Linked DNA regions of Homo sapiens: region 1 is linked to region 2. Evidence: fine-mapped expression QTL. A gene starts in region 2. The other region holds a variant in brackets. All regions are shown on one strand. Distances are from middle to middle. Region 1 overlaps GLIPR1 (GLI pathogenesis related 1). Region 2 holds the start of GLIPR1 (GLI pathogenesis related 1).

Evidence for each region.
Region 1: its variant is fine-mapped to the expression of GLIPR1 in whole blood (TOPMed, PIP above 0.99).

Annotation. Positions count from the first base shown.
Region 1 is chr12:75,498,801-75,510,830 of GRCh38, forward strand. It overlaps GLIPR1 (GLI pathogenesis related 1), which reads left to right. Exons shown (of 6, transcript NM_006851.3): 6 at 24-5,063. The coding sequence ends at 178. KRR1 (KRR1 small subunit processome component) reads right to left here. Exons shown (of 10, transcript NM_007043.7): 2 at 9,474-9,646; 3 at 7,982-8,116; 4 at 7,684-7,809; 5 at 7,516-7,599; 6 at 6,398-6,454; 7 at 5,104-5,274; 8 at 3,123-3,200; 9 at 2,923-3,016; 10 at 1-1,151. The coding sequence ends at 1,009. Among named protein-coding and RNA genes, the nearest start is that of KRR1, 6.8 kb to the right of the region's middle. RefSeq lists an enhancer at 12,022-12,030. The variant T/C (reference allele first, on the strand shown) is at 5,862.
Region 2 is chr12:75,474,374-75,486,403 of GRCh38, forward strand. GLIPR1 (GLI pathogenesis related 1) reads left to right here and starts at 6,382. Exons shown (of 6, transcript NM_006851.3): 1 at 6,382-6,681; 2 at 7,461-7,706. The coding sequence starts at 6,508. It overlaps GLIPR1-AS1 (GLIPR1 antisense RNA 1), which reads right to left. Exons shown (of 2, transcript XR_007063373.1): 2 at 9,081-11,785. RefSeq lists an enhancer at 8,650-8,699 and a silencer at 11,007-11,176.

The DNA of each region.
Region 1 (12,030 bases), 24 kb after region 2:
GATATTCTATGTTTGTTTCACAGGTTACTACTCTGTTGTATATCCAGGCTGGCCCATATATCCACGTAACAGATACACTTCTCTCTTTCTCATTGTTAATTCAGTAATTCTAATACTGTCTGTTATAATTACCATTTTGGTACAGCACAAGTACCCTAATTTAGTTCTTTTGGACTAATACAATTCAGGAAAGAAAAAACCCAAAAACCAACCTCATTCACATATGGCTTTTTTTTTAACCAATAACAATTAGGTGTACTTCTATTTTAAAACATTTCAGAAAAAAATATATGTTATAGCAATACTCTTACTCAAAAGAAGAAATTTCCTAACTCTATCAGATAAACTCATCTTTAGTATAAATAAGCATTATTTGCAGGTTGCCACAGGTGGACTTTTAGTAAGTAACCTAACCCATGTTTCAGCTTCTAAATCTGCAAAATGAGCAAGGTACAGTAGCACATTTTTAGGTGATTCTTAGTAACTCCAGTAGCCTTCATTAGTTAAAAACATTATTATTTTTTGCATGCTGCTTCGACTCTAAATATCTGGTTTTCCCTGTCTTTTTGGTTTACTACTTCCCCAGATTCAGAACAGAGGAGTAACTAGGGGATCTGATTTTAGAGGCCTTAATTTTCTGTTCATGGACTGTTAAAAGTAAAACCAAACTTTCAAAAGGGATAAACCTAAATATTTACTTGTTATCATTAGAGAGGGAACATCAAATGCTGGGACATCATTACTAACCAATAGCATCAGACACTGGATTTAATGGATAATCACAATGGTCGTAATGTATACAAAGACTTATATACCACTTTCTCGTATAAATTTTTCAAAAAATACAATAATAATATAATTTATAAAGAACACTCTTCTATGAACAACCACCACCACCAAAAAAAAAAAAAGCCCTCAGAAAATTTCTCACAAATAAGGCAACTAATGCCTGATATCTCAAAATCCTTTACAAAAGGAGATAGTTCTAGTCAAGGAGTTTTGGGTATGTTACTTTTTTTTCTTCTTTTTCTTTTCATCTGCCTCCATCTTAAGTGCAATTTCTTCAGCTGTAAGAGCTCCCAGTTTCTTATTCTTTGCTTTCTTAACCTTTTCCTTGATGCTGGCCACATCAATTTTAGTTTCAGTAGAAGCTAGACAAATTAAAAGCACAACACATGTAATACTTTAGATTTTACCAAGTAAAACAAAGAATATATGTTTAACAAAGAATATATGTTTAAGGCAGTTAACTTCAGAGTATTCTTATAATTGAATAATTGAAAGGTGATCACAGTATAAAATATAAAAACACTTGCCTAAAGCAGTTAGAAATTTCTTCAGATTAAGATAAAACAAATCATAAAATACTTTATATATTAGTACAAGTATACATAAAAATGGCATAAATGGCATAATTGAACCAATTACTGGATTCAACTATATTAAGACTATTTCCTTAAATCCTACTTCAGACTAAATTATTTTACCTACATTCTTTTCCATATTTTGGAACTTCTGAGTCATTATTTTCCATCTTGCACATTAAAATAATTTAAAATTACATGTATCCCTTCTCAATAAGTTTAATCAGCTAACCCTAAGCTAGAGGTCAAAATCTACTTCCTCTAATATCAAAACGAAAATTTAAAGTTTTCCAAATATTAATTCAATATTAATTGAATATTCAATGAATTAATTCATTTAATGTTAGATTAATTCATTGAATATTAATTCAATGAATGACTAATTAATAGTATTTTAACAAGATTTTGGTATATTTAACAACATTTTGGTAATAAAGACAATAATTTGAGAGTGTGTGGAAGTCCCCCTAATAGAAGCCAACTATCTAATCAATGCCAAAAGTGTGAACAAAATAGAGAAAGGAAGCAGTGAAAAAGAATGCAACTTTTTCTTACCATTCAAAGTACAGGATCACAGCATAAAAGAATCATAAGATAAAACATCAAACTACCCAGCAACCTGAGAAGCACAGAGTGTTAAAGCCTCCACCGTGTGGAGAAACTAAATTAGGGTAACTAGCTATTGAGTATATTGAGTACCTTCAAAGCACTCAACTGACAGGTTTTACAGACTGGAAATTATAATACTTATGACATTTCTACCTTTTATATAACCAATAATCTACCATAGAATGTAGTATTTTTAAAGCTATTAACAAGCAATATATTAAAATAATAATGTATTATATCTGTTTCTGACCCAGTCTATGTACAATATTGCTGGTGAGCCCTCTCCCTTCAGTGTGTCACTGTTCACTTTGGAGGGTTACTTTAGGAAGAGGATAAGTGTTACCACAGGGGAAAAAAATGCAGAAGAGGATGCATCAGAAGAAATGGCATGACAATGTTTTCTCTTAGTGTCTTTTAAATACTAGGTTAGTGCGAAAGTGATTTCTGCCATTTAAAAACCACAATCACTTTCGCACTAATAGCTCCTGAATAAGACCTGTCAGCATCCTTTAGTCTAAGGTGATGAGAAATCCATGTTACCGATATAGAAGCCAAACTCTAAGCCAAGATCACATAAAGAGAAGAAAAAGTACAACTTCTGATAATTCCTCTTTGAGAGGCATGACAGCAGAGCTCAGGGATCTTCTTGCATTTCTACAGAAGATGCACTGGCTGCCCTGGGTTTGTATCTTTCACAACAAAGAGTCTTTTCCAAGCACAGACCAGAGGTCAGGAGAGGACTGTCAATCCAGTTTGCACTGAAATAGGCATTAGCTGCCTCTAAATTATAAATTATCTCAGCCATCCCTTGTCCTTAGGATTAGTAATTAATGAAATGCTAAGAGAACTGATGAAAAGATACAACTGTTTCTTAAAAAGATTCAGACAAATTTATTATGGGTTTACTTTTCCTAATTAATAAAGACTTTTACATCATAGAAAGCATTACCTTCCTTAGGTTTCACAATTGGTTTTTCCTTAGGTGGAATAAATGCTTTGTTTCTTTCCTCTTGTCTCTTACTGATGGCTTCTGCTTGTTTAGCCTACATTAATAAATAAAAAATATATCAGTTAAATGTATTTATAGTTAAATAATTCAAGTATCTATGAACTTTGCTATTCATGTGAGCCAGACATAAAGTGCCGTACCTTTATTGCTTCCATTTTCTGCCGCTTCTTCTGATTTGCCTTCAAAAAGTATTCACCACTAGCCAATTCTTTATCGATCTGTTGAAAACGGTATTTACAATTACATCAGAAATAATGTAGAGGAGAAGTCATGTCCTAAGCAAGTCACAATATCCTTAGGGTAAAAACAATGGGGTCAAACTGATTTATTAATAAAAATGGTAGTGACATAAAGGAAACAGAGTCTAAGCTGAGGGGAATACATACACAAAAGTGTGGAGGTAGGAAAGCACCTCCATGGAATACAACCCAGAGTAGTTCAGGGATATGGCATGGAAGGTCACTGATTCAGAAAAGTGTGAGAAGAAACTGGAGAGAGAGTTTTGGGGAAAATTTGAAGAAGCTTCAATGGCAGACAAAGTAGGAGGGATAAGATTTAGAAATGACTGTAGGTTTCTGAGAAGACTGTAAAGACCAAAGAATAATTTTAATGGAGAGGAATGAAGAATAGATGAGAGCCTGGAATAAAGGTAGTGGCATGCAGAATAAAAGCCAGAACTATCAGGAATTGGTGACTAATTAGCAAAAGCAACAGCTTGTTCATTCAATATACAGCCAACATGTAAAATGTGTATAACTGACCTGTCTCCCACTTACATAGCATTATTATATCTAAGGCACTGTTCTAAGCTCTTTATAATTACTCATTTAATCCTCACTAACAATTCTTTAAGATAGGTATTACCATTACTCCCACTTTAGGTATGGGGAAACTTAAGTATGGATGGGATAAATAACTCGCCCAGTCACATAATGAATTAAGTGTTAAGAACAAGTCAATCGAGACATCACTGTTTCAAGAAGCTTACACAGCTACAGAAGAAAGATAAGTCAATTACTACAAGAAAGGGCCATAAGAAATAAGGCAGGTGTTATGGAAGCATGGTTTAATGACTGCATCACTCCACTTTCCCCCTAACTACTATCAATTTCCTCCATGATCCAAAACTTCCATTGTTTTTTCACTATGATCATCATTTTCCCCGTCAATCACAAATCTTCCCTGAAAGACTCCAACCATGGTTGTGGAAAAAAGAGATGTAGAAAGCAATGAGTTCACATGCTGAGCAGAAGTAGAAAGGGAAGGCTTTAGGATATAGCCAAGGAAGGGAATAATGAAGCAAGAACCCCCAGGAGACAGGTGAAGATGGAATTCAAAGAACACATAGAAGAGGCTGATGCAGGTGGAAGAAAACCCATACGTGAGAGAAGAGGAAACAGAAAGGGGTTCTTATCTGGTGGTCTCAAATATTTCAATAAAATGCAATGTCATATGCTAAACATGGGAGGGCACTGAGAGAATTAAGAGGAAACATGAATTTTGAATGAAATTAATCCAAAGATAAAACTTTCTCTAACTTAATTTGGTAGCCACGTTGCAAGGAAGAAGTCAAGTTTTTAGACTGATCCAAGTTTTAGAGCTTTGCTGAGAAGGTGGGACAGAAGTAAAAAGGGGCATGAATCAAAACAATGATGTGCAAGAACAAAATGGAAACTGGTCATGGTGGGAAAGGAAATGAAGCAGAAGACACCTGACAAAAGGAATCATAACTTAGAAAAACGGTGGGTGTTACAATTTACAATTTAAGATTTCAGAACAAGAACAACCATAGAGCACACAGTCACAATAATGTTGCCAAATCAGAGAAAAGAGTATTGCAGACTAAACGAACTTTTATCCATGGAACATTTACAGTGGCTACAGGGTCACAAACCTCCTGGATGCAGTTTATAATCAATGTGAACGCCCCACTGCACACCCCCATGCACTCAGCTCAAAATATGCCTATTTATATTTACCCTCAGTTTCTTATAGCTCTGCACACACACACACAATATATATATATACACATATCCCACCTGAAATACTTTCAATAAAGTTTCTGACCAAATACATTAAAATAGATTCTCCTTCATATGAAGTTCTACATTTAGTACTAACCTGACTTTCTGGTTGTGGTGGTGGGAATGGCGTATATTCTTTCTTAACAGTTTTTTTCTTTGGTTCCTTGCGTTTATTCACATTTTTGTGTTTGAACTGTGGCAAAAATCTCTCCCAACTTTGTGATCGTAATTCAGAATCTTTTGCCAACTCTCTCTTAATCATTAAGCTCTTTAGTCATGCAACAAAGTAAAAATTTTTACTTTCCAAAGTCACACATTTGTCAGACTCAGACATTATAAATATTGCTTCTATAAATAATAAAAGAAACAGTTCCTAGTTTCTTTGGTGAAATTAAACCAATTACATAAGCAAAAAGGTAGGTTATCACAAACATGTATAATTATTAGAAAACCATTAGAAATTTAATTACAAAATGCAGAATTGTTAAAATGAGACAAAAATAAAACTGAATTTTCAACCATTATTTCATTAAAACATTTAAAATGCCACTTATAAAAGCAGGGAGGGCTCTTAATTAGCTGATGTTCCCTGCAAGCAGGAAGTTTTCAGTAGCAACTGAAATATCACAGAAAAAGACAAAAGTAAACTTTCTCACGATTACAGAAAACCAGTATTTTCACATTTCCCTATTCCATTTAAATTTCAGACCATGGAACATCAGAGGATGCAAACCAGGGATCAGACACATAGTTTTGTTTTTGTCTGCAATATCCCAATATCCCAATGTAACTCAAAATCACTTTCCCCCAATCTAACAGTGACTTTATAACTTAAGTTCATCAAATTTAAGTGGA[T/C]TGCTCAACAAACCCATCATAAAATAGTTCTATATACCATGGTTACATTTCCAAGAATAATCAAACTTTGTGCACACAGGGATATAACAGTTCTCTCTCAAAGGAGCTACAATTTGAGTGTTAAATTCATAAAAAGGTTTTAACGCAACATGAGATGTTCCAGATTTTAATAGAAAAAGGCAGATTTCCGAAAGATCATATCCTTAAATACATGGGTTCATAATCTAAGAAAACTGGATTGATATGATCTACAACAGATTCTGTGAAGCTTACTTTCATTGATTACAACTATATAACATATTACAGTATCCCCTTCAGTAGTTTTCACACTGTGCTCCACAGAGAGCTTCTAAGAAGTACCTACAAAACTGGGGTAGAATTAAGTAGGCTGAAGTCTACCCCTAATTTACCCAAAATAGCTCTGCTTTATCTGTTTGTGCATTAGAATTTCATAAAACATTTAATTTCAAGAAAGGTTTCTGTAGCTAAAAGAAGTATGATAATCACTGGTACAGTTATATATAATTACCACTCACTTTAATGTTATAAATTGGATGAATATTCTTCATAGTATCAAGGACTACTTTTCTAACCTGAAATTTGCAAAGAAAAATGAATTAGTCACAAGGATTTTAATGAGCTATGGAGAAGAGGATTAATACTGCAAAAATCAGGTAATGGGTACCAAATTAAATAATGTAATTAAATAATTAAGTAGTTCCTTCAACTGCTCTGAGTGGCTTCTCCATCTTTCATAAAGGCAGTCAATCTCCCTTGAATACAATACAGTTTCTCAATTACTGCTAAAATGTAGCACAGAGAACTAATACAACACTCTAAAGCAATGTGATTTAGGAGGAAGAGGGCTGGAATACAAGGACTGCCACTGCATACAGGAAAATCACTTTCCTGTTCCAGCTTTCTCATTTGTAATATAAGATAAAACCATATACCTCAAGACTCTCTTGTAAGAATTGTATTCAATATACTTAATTATTGCTCCATGAGAAAAGAGCAGACAATTTATGACAAAAAAGGCCAATAGGATTACTATTAAAGGCCCTGGAAAGGAAGCACAACCTCACAAGCCAGATCCAGACAGTAATAGTACCAAAAGGAGTTAACAGAAACAGCATTTGCTCCACAGATTTCCTCACCACATGTAATTTGAGAAGTTAAAGAAAATGTTCATGAAAAGTTATTAAACATTATACTAAAATTCAAACAAAAGAAACTACATCTTGAAGAAAAGTTTTCAGAGTGTGACCTCTACTGGCTGTATACACTACTGCAAATAACTGGATTTTTGCTCAATTTTCCCGTCATTTGGACATATGTAACTATACCATGTTCATACATGCTACAGACTGAAGATCTTAATGCTCATTTAAATTTTATAGTGGGAGGAGTAATAGTGTGCAGACCATCTAATTCAGAAATGGATGTCTCCATAGTTGCCAAGGTTGGCCAAAACATGTTAGGGTCCAGATATGATGATTCCCTTGAATTATATGACATAAAAAGTATTTACTAATGGGAAATCAAAGCACATTCTAAAGAAATAAAATTATAAAGCATTATCCAATAAACTATATTATAACCAAATTATTTGTTCTCTGCTGAAAATGAATCGAAGATAATACATAGTTCTCACCTCTTTTAAGCCACTAAAAGGTCCAATGGCTGAAACTGTGTTTCCCTGAACCATAATGTAACAATTAGTTAAGAGTTCCAATGCCTGTATCAAGAGATCAAGTTAAAATTCATTACTCTGAAAAAGTATTAAGGAAGAGACTCAAGTTTTCCACTAATTAAAAAATACCTTCAATGTAGATCCTTTGGGACCAATAAGCCGTTGTCTTCGTTTTACAAATCTCTCTTTATTCCTTACTAAAGAACCTATTTTAATGATGTCACATGCAACATCATCCTGAAGAATTCGTACTGCCTTTTGCAAAAAAAAAAAAAAAAAGAAGACATTATCAACATTTTTTACAATTACATTCATTTTCCAGGCCCACGCTATTGTTACCTAAGCACAAATATGAAAACTTGATGGTGGGATGTTATAGGTTAACACTGATGCAAACAAAGCAAAGTCTCTGTAATTCTAGATTTACCTGTTCAAATGAAACACTCCTTGCTAACAGTTTTATCAGATCTCTGGCCCTAATGATGATATATGGATCAAAAGTCTTCTTTGTAGTACAAACAGTCATGCTGCCTTCGATCAGGTCCAGGGTTGCATTAACATGCTACAGAAGGAAAGAGCAAACAAGCAGTTGTCTAAAAATGAGTTTTTTTAGATAATTATAAAGCCTCTCCTAACCAACCTATTAATTTCTGTCACCTCTCAATTCCTATCAATTACTTCCCTGAAGAAGCTAGGTAGTTAAGTATAAATAATGAATACTCAATTACTTTCACACTTTACAGACTATAAGAAACTGGAGCAATTGAAACCATTTACCCTTGGTTTTAGAATACTTTGTACCCACTGGAATATAGATTGCCTCTAATTTAAAAATTATAAATCAAACAAATGAGGTCATACTTAAAATCTGACTAAGGTAAAAATGTAAAGCTGTACAGCTTCCCTATTCTGGACCCAGCTCCAGTCTACCATCTGCTCCATTGGGTAAGAATTGACTTTCCCTTTCAAACTTTTTTCGAGCTAATTAGGGGACTAAATACAAAGTAAAAGCAAATTATCATAGTTTCAGAAAAAAGCAATGATTAGAAAACTTAAGCATTAACTTTCAACAGGAAAAAACAGATTTCAACAAAGCGAATTAAAATGCTATTTTCTCACTTGTGAGCATAATCTCAAGAATATTTCAACATAGTTAAGTGCTGAACAATTCAACATATGGTTGAGTCTCTATGAGTTTACAAAAAAAAAATGAGCTCAATCCCAGATGCAGCTACAAAACACAACCTGCAGCTTGCTGAGCCACCTTCACCCACAATGGCACAACCAACTCCAGAGCAGTCCCACAGTTAGAAACACATTTTATATCACAACCTAATACATATACACACACACACAAACAAAGCCAATATCAAAAAAAGATACTTTTACCATGTGATATGTCATTTTCTAAAGGCTCATTATAGCCATTAAATTGACTTCTCAATACACTAATGGGTTTCAATCCCCAGTTTGAAAAAAAAAATGCAGTTATCTAGGGGCATAGCATCAGCAATAAACAAGGAAAAGTTGGACACATCCACATCTTCCATTTAAGATGAAAGGTAATCAATTAGAAACATGACTCAGCTCAGACTGGGACAGATACATGACAACTATCATGGCCTGGAGCAGGCATACTGAAATTGGGACTTCACAGGTGAATTTCAGACAGTTGTGAAGCTCCTAAAATATTAAAGGTATGTAAATTTTTCAAAGTAATTTATTACTCATAAAATTAAAACAAATGAACATTAGGTAAGAAGAAAACTTACTTAAATAGTTTAGAATACCAAAGGAACCAAAGTAACCAGCTATGTTAGCACCATTAAAAAAAAAAAAAAAGCATTAGCATACATACATTTAAAGGCATAAGCAAGAGCAAAGTCTCAAATAAATGTATTGATATAAGATACACATACATGTTCATTTAAGGCTTTCTGCACCAATGGCCAACACTCTTTCAAGTAAGCTTCCCTGTATTTTGGGAACAAAGTTGCGAAACTGCTCTCCTCCAAAAGTCCTCTGGGATTGTCCTCTTTGGAAAAAGCTGGTTCCTTCCAACCATCAGGAACCGTAAGGAGTTCTGATTCATCTACAGAAAGGAAAAAATTTACACATCACATTTTAACTGTCTTTTGGACATACACATCACATTTTAACTGTCTTTTGGACACTTTATGAACATCCTATGCACATATTCACAAACCTTCCAATACTCCTTGCATTTCCTTTTCCCCTGCTTTTTATATTATTCAAGAGTCAAAGAACGTTCCTCTGTCATTATCATCAATTCTCTGTATTAAAATTATCTGTACACATTTCAGTTGCCTCATATGACAAAGTTCCTTAAGAGCAGAAACCCTCTTCACACTAGTTGGCATATGCCAGGCAGATAGTGAGTACTCCAGAAACATGTACTGCACTACACTATCATAAAATTGAAGATTTGAATGCCATTTTGGTTAGTATTTTAAATACAATTAACCTTTCTGACTTTCCTGGAGTGTATGGAATCTGGATGTATGTGTTTGTGTAAAACTTCTGAAAGAGAATTCTAGTTTATCTTTCAGTTAATAATCACTGGTAATTCTAGATTTTCCTAAGCATTTTGAGTGCCTTATTTCCATACGCCTTTCATCGTAACTATAAAAGGTAGAATCTGTATTATTATTCTCATTTTATAGAAGATGGTCTAAAAAGGTTAAGTGACTTGCCTAAGGGAACACAAAGCTCACTCAGCCTGGGACTCCTTTCACTACAAGAAAATGCCTCCTAAGGGCCGTAAATTATCTTCTGAATCATTTATTTAAAAAACTCTTGATCTTGAATTTGAAGAACTCCTTAATTTCAATAGCTATACTCTAATTCAGTTATACTCAAAGGTATGATCCATAGACTTGCAGTATCAGCACAAACTGTAAGTCTGTCAGAAATGCAATTATTGGGCCCCACTACAGACCTACTGAATGAGAATCTCTTCGACGAGGGACAAGAATCTGTGTTTTACCATGCTCAACAGGAGACTCTTAAGCACGGTAAAGTTTGAAAAACACGTCATTACCCTATGTTAGCAGCCTCAGACAGGTAAACTTTCTGCTTATACTCACATCCACGTTGCTATTTCTGGTTCAAATCACAGACAATTGGCTAGTCTTCATATAAAGGATTCTCCAATGTCCTTTAAAGAACACGAATTCCACAAAAGTGATTACTTATATACTATACACATTTCTTTTTTTTTTTTTTTTTTTAAAGACAGGGCCTCGCTCTGTCACCCAGGCTGGAGTGCAATGGCTCCATCCCAGCTCACTGCAGCCTGGACCTCCTGGACTCAAGCGATCTATTCTCTTGCCTCAGCCTCACAAGTAGCTGGTACTACAGGCATGTGCCATCATGTCCGGCTAATTTTTTTTTTTTTTTTGTAGCGAAAGGGTTTTGCCATGTTGACCAGACTGGTCTCCTGGGCTCAAGCAATCCCCCCTCCTCAGCTTGCCAAAGTGCTGGGATTACAGGTGTGAGTCACTGCAACTAGTTACTTACAATGTTTACCTGACGAAGTCCCTATCCAATTTAAACACTTCAAAGGCTATGGATAATTTTTTTTAAAATCCCCACTACAACCTCAGGAAAAAAACTGACAAAAGAAATACTCAGGAGTTTCACAATTAAGGAAGCCTCAAAACATGTGAAAAGATATGCAACCTCATAGGTGATCAGAAAATGCAAACTAAAACTGCAACCAAATACCATTTCATAACTACCAAAATGACAGAAATTCAAAATTCAGATAACATGTATTCATACTAATGTAAGGCAATGACAACTTTCGTCCACTCCTAGTGGGAACAAAACTGACACTAGCACTTTGGAAAAAAGTTAGCATTACTTACACACACCCTACACTTCAGTGATTCCAATCCTATGTTCACAACCTAGAGAAACCCTTGAACATGTTAACCAGAAGACATGTACAAAGATGTTTTAGCAGTATTGTTTATAATTGCAAGCAATTGGGAACAATCCAAATGTCCACCGATAGTAAAATGAAAAAATAAATTGGGGTATATTCATACAAGGAAACACCACATAACAGTGAAAAGACTAAAACTACACCCGCAAGTATCACCCTGTTTGAAAAACAAAAAGCTAAATCTAAGAAGACACAGAAAAATGCATACGGTCCACTTTCATGTATATAAAATTAAAAAACAGGCTAAATTAAGCCACTTCATGACTACAAGAAGAGGAACAGAATGCAACACAATTCAGGGTGGTTACGTCTGATACAGGAAAAGAGAATATGATCTGAGAGGTGCACGTAAGGGTTTGAGGGGTATGGTAATGCTCTATTTTACTTAGTCTGAATGCTAGTTTCCCGCATGGTTTTATTAAACTCTATATAAGTTGTATCCCCTGCTATGTACGTTACATAATCATTTAATGAGCAACAACAAAGAAACTTTGAATACTTTCCCA
Region 2 (12,030 bases):
GTAAATGAAGGAGCCTCCTAGGAAGAAAGTTGTGCTGAAATTGACCCAATAGAAAATTCTTTAGCCCTTGACAGAGAAGGAAGATTCTGAACAGCATGGATACCATCACTCGAATTTATCTCCTAACCCAAATTCTGTAGATAGGCAATCAGGGAAGATGTAAGTAAAAACTAAAGGGCGTCTGAGCATGTAGCACTGCCTTGGGGCTGACCCTATGGACTGACTTCTTGAGGCACCCCTAATAGAAACCCATGGAACCGTGGCCACACAAGAGATAAGTGTCTGGAAAAGTAGCATAAGCTCTTGGTGGAAATGGACTTCTTCACCAGTTAATGTAAAAGAAACCCTCAGACAACCTTTTGTGGGTGATTTTACAAGGTGTTGAGGTCCTATGTTAGGCAGTTGTAGGCAAAATCAGTGAGGTATGTATTACTATCCTAATCTGACACAGTTGGCTCCATTTGGGGAAGAAAGATCTGGTTGTAGTATATATTATCACTAATGAAAGGGATTGAGAAAAGAAAAGTAGTAAGAGTATAAAAGAATAGATTATTTCTGCTCTTACATCTGAGAAATTGAAAGGAAATATCACATAGCAGAATCCTTGGCAACCAGAAGAATTCAATGTAGCTATAGTTATGCTTGAATATACAAATATAATTAACCTAGTCCTGAGAACTGCATATAACCCAAAATCATCCAAGCTAGGCAAAAGATGTTAAAGTAAAAAATTAATTTTACAAAGCTATATATTTTTAAAAGGCAATTATTTTTGAAAATGATCCTTTGTTGGGTAGAGAAAGGGAATACATAATAAAGCTAAAAATGTCCAAACATACAACATAAAATTGTTGCAGTCTAATAACTAAAAAAGCCAATATTACTGTTTTGTACATTATTTTAGAAGAAATGAGTATATTTAGTAGGAGCATTGCTCTGCTCCAGTGTCATTGTATAAGAATTAACCTTGAATATCAAGTGGCATTTGCCCAACATTTTTCATCTGAATATCTAAAACTGTTTAAAAACTAATTATAAAACATCATTTATGGGTCATTAAATACATCTATTTCTAATAGGAAAATAAGTTATTTATTTAGACTATTCAAATGAATACCAAATGCAGTGTATAAAAAGTCACAAGGTAAAGAACCCGTCAAGAAACAAATGTAACACCATTGTGAGTAGTTTATATCAAAAATCCATTATTGATCTATAGCAATAATACTTACAGTGTCAAGGTATATTTTTTCCTAACTTGATTTTATTCTCTTGTCAAAATGTAATGCTATAAATATGAAAGTGTTCTAGGTTAAACGTAGCCTCAACTGTATGTATGTGTACTAGTCCATTTTCATCCTGCTGATAAAGACATACCCAGGACTGGGTAATTTATGAGGGAAAGGGCTAGGCGCAGTGGCTCACGCCTGTAATCCCAGCACTTTGGGAGGCAGTCAAGAGATGGAGACCATCCTGGCCAACATGGTGAAACCCCATTTCCACTAAAAATACAAAAAAATTAGCTGGGTGTGGTGGCATGTGCCTGTAGTCCCAGCTACTTGGGAGGCTGAGGCAGGAGAATCACTTGAACCCGGGAGACGGAGGTTGCAGCCAGCTGAGATCGCGCCACTGCACTCCAGCCTGGTGACAGAGGGAGACTCTGTCTCAAAAAAAAAAAAAAAAAAAAAAAAAAAAAGAAAAGAAAAGGAGGTTTAATGGACTCACAGTTCCATGTGGTTGGAGAGGCCTCACAATCATGGCAGAAAGCAAAAGGCATGTCTTACACAGCAGCAGGCAAGAGAATGAGAGCCAAGCAAAAAGGGAAACCCCTTATAAAACCATCAGATCTCATGAGACTTATTCACAACCATGACAAAAGTATGGGGGAAACCACCCCCCATGATTCAATTCTCTCCCACAGGGTCCCTCCCACAGCATGCGGAAATTATGGGAGCTACAATTCAAGATGAGATTTGTGTGGTGACACAGCCAAACCCTATCAGTATGGAATGCACTTATGCATACCTAGAGTAATAAAGGAAAAGAAATAATAATAATAGCTGGTATATATAGTACTTACCCTGTGTCAGGCACTACCTAATCTGTTTTTAGAAATAACTTCTTATTTAAATTTGTTTGTCAATCCAATGAAGGAGGTAATATTATCATTCCTATTTTACAGATAAGGAAACTAAAGGACAGAAAGACAAAATGCCCATTCATACACCTAGTACAGGGTATTTGATTTGAACCCAGACAGTCTAATGAACTTGTGCTCTTAACAACTACAGACAAGATTTGCAATGAGACCTTAAGTTAACATCTTACTAGTGTCATTCCCCTGGTCCAGTTATTTATCCTCTTTATGTCCCAATATTTTCATCTGTAAATAGGAATAATTTTGTGTATACACATACATATATATACACACATATATATGTCACAAGATTATTATGAGAGCATAGTGAGATAATGAATTTGAAAAGGTTTGGTGCTTGTCATCACTGCTGCCAACTGACCTAAGCTAACATGGCCTCAAATGTCAGGTTCCTTTGATAAATATTGAAGCCTCTTGCAGTTAGAGCTGAGTTATGCAAAGGCTATGTTCCCCTCCCTTACAAACCCAGTACCTGATAGTATGCTATTATGAAAGTAAGTCTTGGACAAATTTTGCTAAATGTCTTAACATTCATTAGCAAACAATTACAGAAACATTCCTGCTTTCTACTCTTAGACGCTCCAATGGTAAGCTCACTAAACAGACATTCTAAAGTTAAGACTAGCAGCCTTGAAGTCAAGGCAGAAAACGGGGACCTCTTGTGAGGTGGCAATTCCCTTGAACACTACACCAGCAGTAATAGAGATCTGAGGATGTCTGCTTCTTTATACTTCATTCATGCAATAGCAGGAGGCTGTGTTCAATCTCCCCACAAGCCATTCACCATGAAAATTACTCATTTTGCCAGTGAAAATGATTCTCTAACATGCCCTGTTCTAATTAACAAACTCTCAGGTATCAATTTCCATAACCATATCTGAAGTGTTAACCATCACCTTTGGAGTGTGGATTCTTGGTTAGAGTACTTCAGCACTAATTAACTGCTTCTAGAATATGGACTACAGTTAACTTGTACATTGTCACATACGTAAAACTAATTTATACCAAATTAAAGTATCATCACACAACAATGTAACAGTGACATGTTTGCTTAATAAATATAGCCCCTCCCTCTTTCTGAATCCTTTATCTTTGTCTATCCCCACACCCAACACATAGCCCCAGTAGAATAGGTGGCTAGAGGTTTTGGAGCCTAAATGTTTTTGGAATCTAATCAGGAAGTGTGGGATTATAGAAAATTCTATATCATTTCTCCCCAAGAAATAAAAAAGCTCATCATATATATAAATTGATATATTTAGAACAGTATAGCAAGGTTGAGATTTTTCCACATAATATAAATGATTATCTCTAGCTACACAAACTGTTGCTTTTTATAAGACACTTGAGTAAAGCTTGCGGGGATAGAGAGACATAGTCCATTATGCAGTATTACCCACAATACTGAAATTGTGGATATTCCTTTAGTCTTTTATCTATGCATGGGTTTATCAGGCAATGTATATGTATGAATTTGTGCATGATTTTAAAGATCCCATGACTCTCCAAAATAATTGCAGTTTATTTTATTACTATGAAAGATAGCATGTTCTTGCTGTAAAAAAATTAAACGATACAGAGAAGAATTAAAAAGAAAGTTAAAAATCTTTTAAAATGCTACCATGAGTGATGAGCACTAAAAACCAATCTCTCTGTCTTAACACACGTGCATAATTATCAAAGAGATCATGGTGAAGACTTGGGTTAAGAAGTGGAAAAAGTCATAGCAAAGTTCAAAGCCTTCTAAGCAGTGCAGGCTTACATTTGCTTCCAAGTAAAAGTTCCTGTTCTGTGGCAAACCACTTCTCTGGACTTTTGGTGCAAACGTGTAGTGTGAATTGAAAAGTTTTAGAGTTGTAGCTCTAAGGAGCTAACCTGGTCTGCACAATAACACAAAAATCATCTCTGTGACGGCAGACTTTCCCTTTTGCTGATTATTTTCAGGAAAGTAGAGAAAAAATATTAAATCATTTCAAGACCAAGATAACATTGCTCATTCTTGGGAGTTGTATGTGTATAACAGGGATTACGCAAGCAACCAAAAAAACCACTGATTTTGCTTGCTCGTGGGGTTTCCTCTTTCTTGTTGTTGTATTCAAAACTCAGTCTAGCTCACAGAGACCCAGAAGAAGATGAGAAGCAGGCCTTAGACATGGTTACCACTTCAAACTGGAGAAAGGTCTCTTTGTTTATTGTCACTACATTGATCAAAAAGTTGCCTATGAGACCTGGATAAGACACTGCTTATCTCAGATTCCTATAATGTAAAGACATGCTAGTAGAAATTAGGCAGCCTGGACAAAATTTGAATTTATGTATGAGTATTTTTAAGGTTATTTGTGTGTGTGTGGCAATAGTAATTCTGCCTTATGGTTCTGTAATGGTTTTTGTTTGTTTGGTTGGTTGGTTGGGCTTTTTTGAGATGGAGTTTCACTCTTGTTGCCTAGGCTAGAGTGCAATGACAATCTCAGTTTACTGCAACTCCGCCTCCCAGGTTCAAGCAATTCTCCTGCCTCAGCCTCGCAAGTAGCTGGGATTACAGGCATGTGCCACCATGCCAGGCTAATTTTGGTATTTCTAGTAGAGACAGGGTTTCACCATGTTGGTCAGGCTGGCCTTGCACAACTGACCTCAGATGATCCGCCCTCCTCAGCCTCCCAAAGTGCTGGGATTACAGGCGTGAGCCACCGCGCCTGGCCCGTATGTTTGTTTTTAATGATGGGGCCTCGCTCTGTCACCCAGGCTGGATTGCAGTGACCTGACTATAGCTCTTCACAGCCTCAAATTGTGGGGATCAAGCTATCCTCCCACCTCAACTTTCTGAGTAGGTGGGGCTACAGGTGTGCCTGGAATGTTTCTTTACTTTTTGTTTGCATTAGAAATATTTCCCCACCTCATTCCATTTTCCATCTCTCTTAATTTTCTAAAATACACGTGTTTTCTAAAACCAGGTCTAAACCCCACCTACAGCTAAAATCCTCCAATAACTTCCCATGACTTTGGTGATAAAATAAAAAATCATTAGCAGAATTGAGAAATCCTTCCTGATCTGACTCTTAACTTCTCTCCCCCAAGTGGCATGAAAGCATCATTTGGATTCTGAATTCCATGACACCAGGTATCAAGTTTTCTACCAGTCAGAATCACTACTTATTTACAGACCATATTTACAGAGGGAGACAATATGGAGAGGTTCTTGCTCTATTCTTGCCATAACACCATGTCTTCAATTTCACAACTAGATATATAGTTCCTATCCCTCTAATTCCCTTCTCCTCTCCAGCGCTTTTTCACTTGATCAACACCTAGCTGATTCTAGCCTCAGCAAAGACCTCACCTGCTGTATGTAGGCCGGCTCTGCCGTTTCCAGAATGGGTTAAGTATGCTCTCTTGTGTGTCCATATCTACCTGTGCTTTCCTATATCCAGATCTCCAACAGCCCCTGTTGTAACATCCTTGTCATCACCATCTCACAGCTCTTACCACTGTAAGCTCCTTGGGGCCAGTGACTGTGTTTTTATTTCTGTATTACTAAGGTGAATATACAAGGCAGGAATTTAATATTAGCTAGTTCATTTGATCCTGCCAAACCTCTGTAATTAAGGAAGCAGAAAAGGTCCCATAGTCTCATTCAATAGGTGGCTGAGGTTTAGAGAGTTTTGTATCCTGTCCAAGGTCTTACAGCTAGTTAGAAACAGAAACTAAATTCTCAACTTGAGTCCTGTATTCTTTCTACTATTCTCCCTCTCAATCCCTCTCTCTCTTTCTCTCTCTCTCTCTTTCTCTCCCTCTCTCTCTCTCACACACACACACACACACACACATACACGCTTACATGTTTCTACCATCGTGAATGAATTCTAGGTCAAGTTTATGATGTTAACCAGATATTCCAACCACTATGTGTTGATATGACTCTAAAAAGAAAAAGATTTCTGAAAGCATTTTGCGAGGCATTTATAGAAGTAAGAGATATTTTCATTTTATCACCGCAACCTCCATTAAAAATTGGAGACTATTATTCCTGGAGACTTCAGAATTTTCTTTGGAAATATCTCCCAATTCAAAAGGAAGTCTGACACAGCCTCATAAAAATCTATGTCGTAATAGGTGCTGTGTCACTGAAAACCACTGAAAAGACAGGGTTAAGAACACAAAGTGAGCTGCACACCATATATGGAGAAACCCGTTTCTTAAAACTAGTGATGAACTCATGCTCTGTTCTGTTTTCTCAAAGCTGAAGTCGGCTAGGTTTGCAAAGCTGTGGGCTGAGCACTCAGGCAATCACACTCTCAGAAACTGCGGCGGCTCTGGACTGCAGCCTCCCAAGGCTCCATGCCAGACAAAGCATGCGTGTCACACTTGCTACAATAGCCTGGATGGTTTCTTTTGTCTCCAATTATTCACACACAGCAAATATTTTGCCAGATATCGAAAATGAAGATTTCATCAAAGACTGCGTTCGAATCCATAACAAGTTCCGATCAGAGGTGAAACCAACAGCCAGTGATATGCTATACATGGTAAGGAAAATATCATTAATTGTGGCGTCAGTCAGTCAGAAACAACTAATGTGTATTGACTTTGGTGTTAATACCTTCGTAATACTGAATGATTTTTTTTTCATTGTGATTAATGTATGCAGTAAATTCACAGTCTGTGATCAAAACACATCCAGTTTAGCTCTGTCTACCCAACTGTTGTTATAAGCAAGTGCCACAGCACATTTTACTTCTCTTTGGACACTTCCTGTTTTCTGGTTTTCAGTGGATTTTACTTCTCTTTTTGTTATCTTCCTCCCTGTTAATTTTTGTGATTTGGTTTTCTTTTTTTTTTTTTTTTTTTGTCTCTAAATTTACTTTTTTTGCTGCTGACAAAGTACTGAGTTGCTCAGGTAGGCAGAATGGCATCTGGGGAAAGGATGGGATTTTGATTCAGTAAGGCTTGGGATTGAATTTCAGATCTGTGGCTTTAAGCTGGTTTTTAACCTTTCTGAACTTCTTAGGATATGGGCTGTTGTGGTTATGGAATAATGTTGTGAAACACGGCACACACTATTTTGCCCACAATTAGCCTTCAGTGAAATGTCAGTTTTCCTCACTTAGATTCTAAATTCCATGAAACTAAATTGTCACGTTTCCTACCAGCCCTACTCAGTGCTTGAAGACCATATTTATAGAGGACTCATATGCAGTGGTATCTTCTCTCCTTATCTCACCTCGTTTTCCATTCAAATTCCCACTGTACTCACCCCAGTTACATTTCAGATGAACCCCCTATTGTTTAATGTTTATTTTTGCAGACTTGGGACCCAGCACTAGCCCAAATTGCAAAAGCATGGGCCAGCAATTGCCAGTTTTCACATAATACACGGCTGAAGCCACCCCACAAGCTGCACCCAAACTTCACTTCACTGGGAGAGAACATCTGGACTGGGTCTGTGCCCATTTTTTCTGTGTCTTCCGCCATCACAAACTGGTATGACGAAATCCAGGACTATGACTTCAAGACTCGGATATGCAAAAAAGTCTGTGGCCACTACACTCAGGTAAGGATCTGCCCTATATTATCTTGAAACTGTCTTTTCAAGTATGAGGAGAAAAATTGTACTATGAAGTTAAGAAAATGTATAGTATGCTAGTATACCTGTAAATATAAGGGAGTTAAATAGAACAGCCTCCAAGAACAGAAAATAATGCTTGAAAAGTTTAGTTGTGTGAACTAAACACATAATAGGTAATATGTGAGGCCCACCAACTTGGACAGGCTTTGAACAATTCCTGTAACAGCTATTCTCCCATAGGACTTTATTCCATTTGTGAGAAATCAAAGAACCTTATGAGTGAAAGGATTTTCAGGTTCCAGCTGTAGCATGAGTTTTAAATGAAATTTGAGCCAATTGTTTTGGGACTATAAAATTGGAAGAAACAAGACTCTCAGACAGAAACATCAATAAGAACTGATGCTTCCACAACCTCTCATTCTCTCAAACATCGACTGAAAACCTACTGTGTGCCATGCACTAGGCACCACGCACGGTGCTACACAAGGAGGGAGAAAAAGTCAGTCCCAGGCCAACAGAGAGGCCAACGTGTAAACTTATATGAACCATTCTGAGGGTATTCTGCCCCCAGAATCCATATTATTAGTCCCAATAGCCACATTCAGAGCCACCCATTGAGTTTTTTTTTTTTTTTTTAATTTTTACTCAAGCTGATTCTGGCTCCCTAACCCTACCTCACATTTGCAGCATGATGGAAACAACTCTCTAGGGAGCATCTGTCATAATTGTCTTCAGACGCTGCCTTCCTGTCCTGGCTACATTTTGTTTATTTACTGTCACTTCCTGGCCATCCTTGTCAAACCAATAACGTACGGTACTTAACCTATAATTGACTGTTTTGGGGCACAAAAAATCAGTTGAAATGAGGTATGAAGGCAAAAACGTTTCTATCAAGGCAGTTACATTGAAACATTAGGTGGTTTTAAGGAACAACATGGTGTAAGAAAACCTCCCTTACTCCAGCTCAGCCTTACAAAGCCTGTGATCTCATTCGTGGTGCTACAGATGAACCAAGTTTGGTGCAGTTACAAAAAATTATTATAAGAGTAAAATGAATTTCTCCTAAATTTACTTCATAAACTAACAATTTTGGTTTACATTTACAAATAAATTTAACCAGGAAATAAGTTTCCTTGGATTCCAACAAGACCTAGGGGAGTAGAAAGCTAAATCTAGATAGCCTACAAGTGGTACTTGTACTGTTATGCATTGCGGTATTTAAATACTCAGAAATAATTGTCAGTTTGAGGGTGCCTACTTTCATTTATTTATTAGTCAGTGTTTAAGCTTTTACCCTATAACAGGCACTAGTGATATGTCTTAGTCCAGATTCTTGGAAAACAGAGCCTGAGACAATAGTTTATGAGCTAACATTTTATTGGGATACAATCTTGGAGAAGCGGAAGTGAGGAGAAATAGGGAATGAGCCAGGGAAGGAGGAGAAATACAGCTGGAAATGGTCCCTGGCCCTCAGAAATTGACCTTTTGGGAGAGACTTATGTGTAAATGGATTATGACAGTGTTTGGCTAGTACAATTTAGAGAAGCTGACAAAGTGCCATGTGAGCAAGGAGGACAGAATGAGCAACTTATCCGGCCAAAAGGAAGTGTAAAGCTTCACACTGCTGGAGACATGTGAATTGGTACTTGAAAACTGAGTGGGAATTTTTCAGATGAAAAGGAAAGGGAAGAGAATTCTCAGCAAGGTGTGGAAAGTATACAATGTGTATGAATGGGCCTGGTACTTTAGATCAATGGCAAGAAGCTCAGCATGCCAAATATATAGAGGTCAAAAGACTGTAAAATTGACAACAGACTCCTAAACCATGCTCAATACACAAGTTAAGACACTCCATGTTCACCATTCCAGGAAATCGAAAGAAGAGAACATTTGAGTTTATGCCATAAATGCCTGAGATTTCACAGATGGCCCTCCCAAAATTAACTGAGCTTACTTGTAAAATTTCCCCTTACATCTAAGGGAAAAAAGGAGGACTAATATTTTGGTCATGAGAAAATTCATTTTCTAAAACCCAGTCCCATACATACAGATATTAAAACCCAAGCTCAGTGATCCTAACATGAGTGATCCTCTTTAAGAAACCACTACATTCTACCCCCACTTCAGAAGAGGGGCACTCATCACGGGGAGAATGTCCAAGAACCCCCTGGGCTGGGAAGATAGAGCAGCAGCAATCACTTTTTAAATGGGCATAGTGTTTAGCTCTCTACACTGAAGACCTCATTCAATTATTACCACAAATCTATTAAGGAGATGTTAATGGTATTACCCACAGGTGAATAAACAGACTTAGAGAGGTTAATAAGTTGTTCCCCTGATGTCATTTAGCTAGTAAGATGAAGAGTTGAGGTTCAGATATTAGATATGTTGGAAGGCTTAAATAATAATTTCACTTGCGTCCTTGTGAAGAGACCACCAAACAGTCTTTGTGTGAGCAATAAAGCTTTTTATCACCTGGGTACAGGCAGGCTGAGTTCAAAAAGAGAGTCAATGAAGGGAGATGGGGTGGAGCTGTTTTATAGGATTTGGGTAATGGAAAATTACAGTCAAAGGGGGTTGTTCTCTGGCTGGCAGGGGTGGGAGTCACAAGGTGCTCAGTGGGGGAGCTTTTGAGCCAGGATGAGCCAGGAGAAGGAATTTCACAAGGTAATGTCATCAGTTAAGGCAGGAACAGGGCATTTTCACTTCTTTTGTGATTCCTCAGTTACTTCAGGCCATCTGGATGTATACGTGCAGGTCACAGGAGATATGATGGCTTAGCTTGGGCTCAGAGGCCTGACAAATAAAATATGTATACATTACCTAATAAAATACTAGTATTTAGTAGGCATTGAACAAAGGGTAGATCCTTACATAAGCTGGTTTTCCAACAATCATAATGGAAGAAGGATCTGATAGCTAGGTGAAAGACTGTTTTCATCATGACAAGAAATCTTCCTGGGGGACTCAAAACTACTCAATTGCTGTGTTAAATTCATGCTGAACAGTTACTTTAAGTGGATATTACAACCTCCTACTTATCCTCATCTTCTCTTCAAAAATCGAGCTATTTGCAGATTTTGGCTGATGATGGGAGGTTGTACAGAATAAAGAAAATAGATTCAGGCCCATTAACTCCTCACAAAATGTATGATATTTCTTGATGTATTCATTCAACACTTTAGCTTTGTCTTCACTGGAGATAGACTGGCATTGAGAAAAAATGTTGGTGTATAAAATGGAAGATGACTCAAATTCGACATTCTGTTGCTGACAGTTCAGCTTTATAAAGTTTAGAAATAGTTTAATTAAAGTATCTGGGCAGGGTAGAGGATTACTTGGATTTGATAGTGCTAGGATTTCTCACTAGATGGCGCTACTGATCTTATTTTAGTTTTTCTCTTCCTGCCTCCTCCTCTCACCCTCTTGACAGCTTTATTTTATTTATTTATTTATTTATTTATTTATTTTTTTGAGACGGAGTCTCGCTCTGTCGCCCAGGCTGGAGTGCAGTGGCGGGATCTCGGCTCACTGCAAGCTCCGCCTCCCGGGTTCACGCCATTCTCCTGCCTCAGCCTCCCAAGTAGCTGGGACTACAGGCGCCCGCCACTACGCCCGGCTAATTTTTTGTATTTTTAGTAGAGATGGGGTTTCACCGTTTTAGCCGGGATGGTCTCGATCTCCTGACCTCGTGATCCGCCCGCCTCGGCCAGCTTTATTTTTATACTCGCATAGAACCATGGAAATGTGACCTGTTTCACAATTTCTGTAGTAGGTTTCATATATGTTACAATGTTACCATACTCCCGATAATGAACCAGAAGAGCTCATACCGAGAATTGAAAGGGAAAGATGGTAGGAAGGGGTTGTGGGCCTATAAGGGAGACATCTTCCTTCCCTCTGGGTTCCCCAGGTGCAGTGCTTTTGTAAGAAAGGTATAAAGAGTGGTTCCTGGTTCTGAAGAGCTTGCTAAAAGAGAAAACACTCTAAAAGCATCTTGCTGAGGGCATGGACTGTCCTCACAGTACTTCATGGCCAGGCAGAATTAGGTTCCAATCTTTTACCTACAAAAGGAAGAGCAATAACACTTTATAAGGATTAAACATGATGTCACATGTAAAATGCTTAATGATACACCTAAGTTCTCAAAAATGAGTAGCGCTTATAATTATGGTTTTTTGTTTACTACAGTAAGAAAACATACAACAGAAACCTGCCTGATAAAAAAAAAAATTAAAGTGTTAAGAATTTTTAAGCCTAAGAAACTTAGTGGTAAGGGAATGAAACAAGAATATTTGCTGAGTGCTTG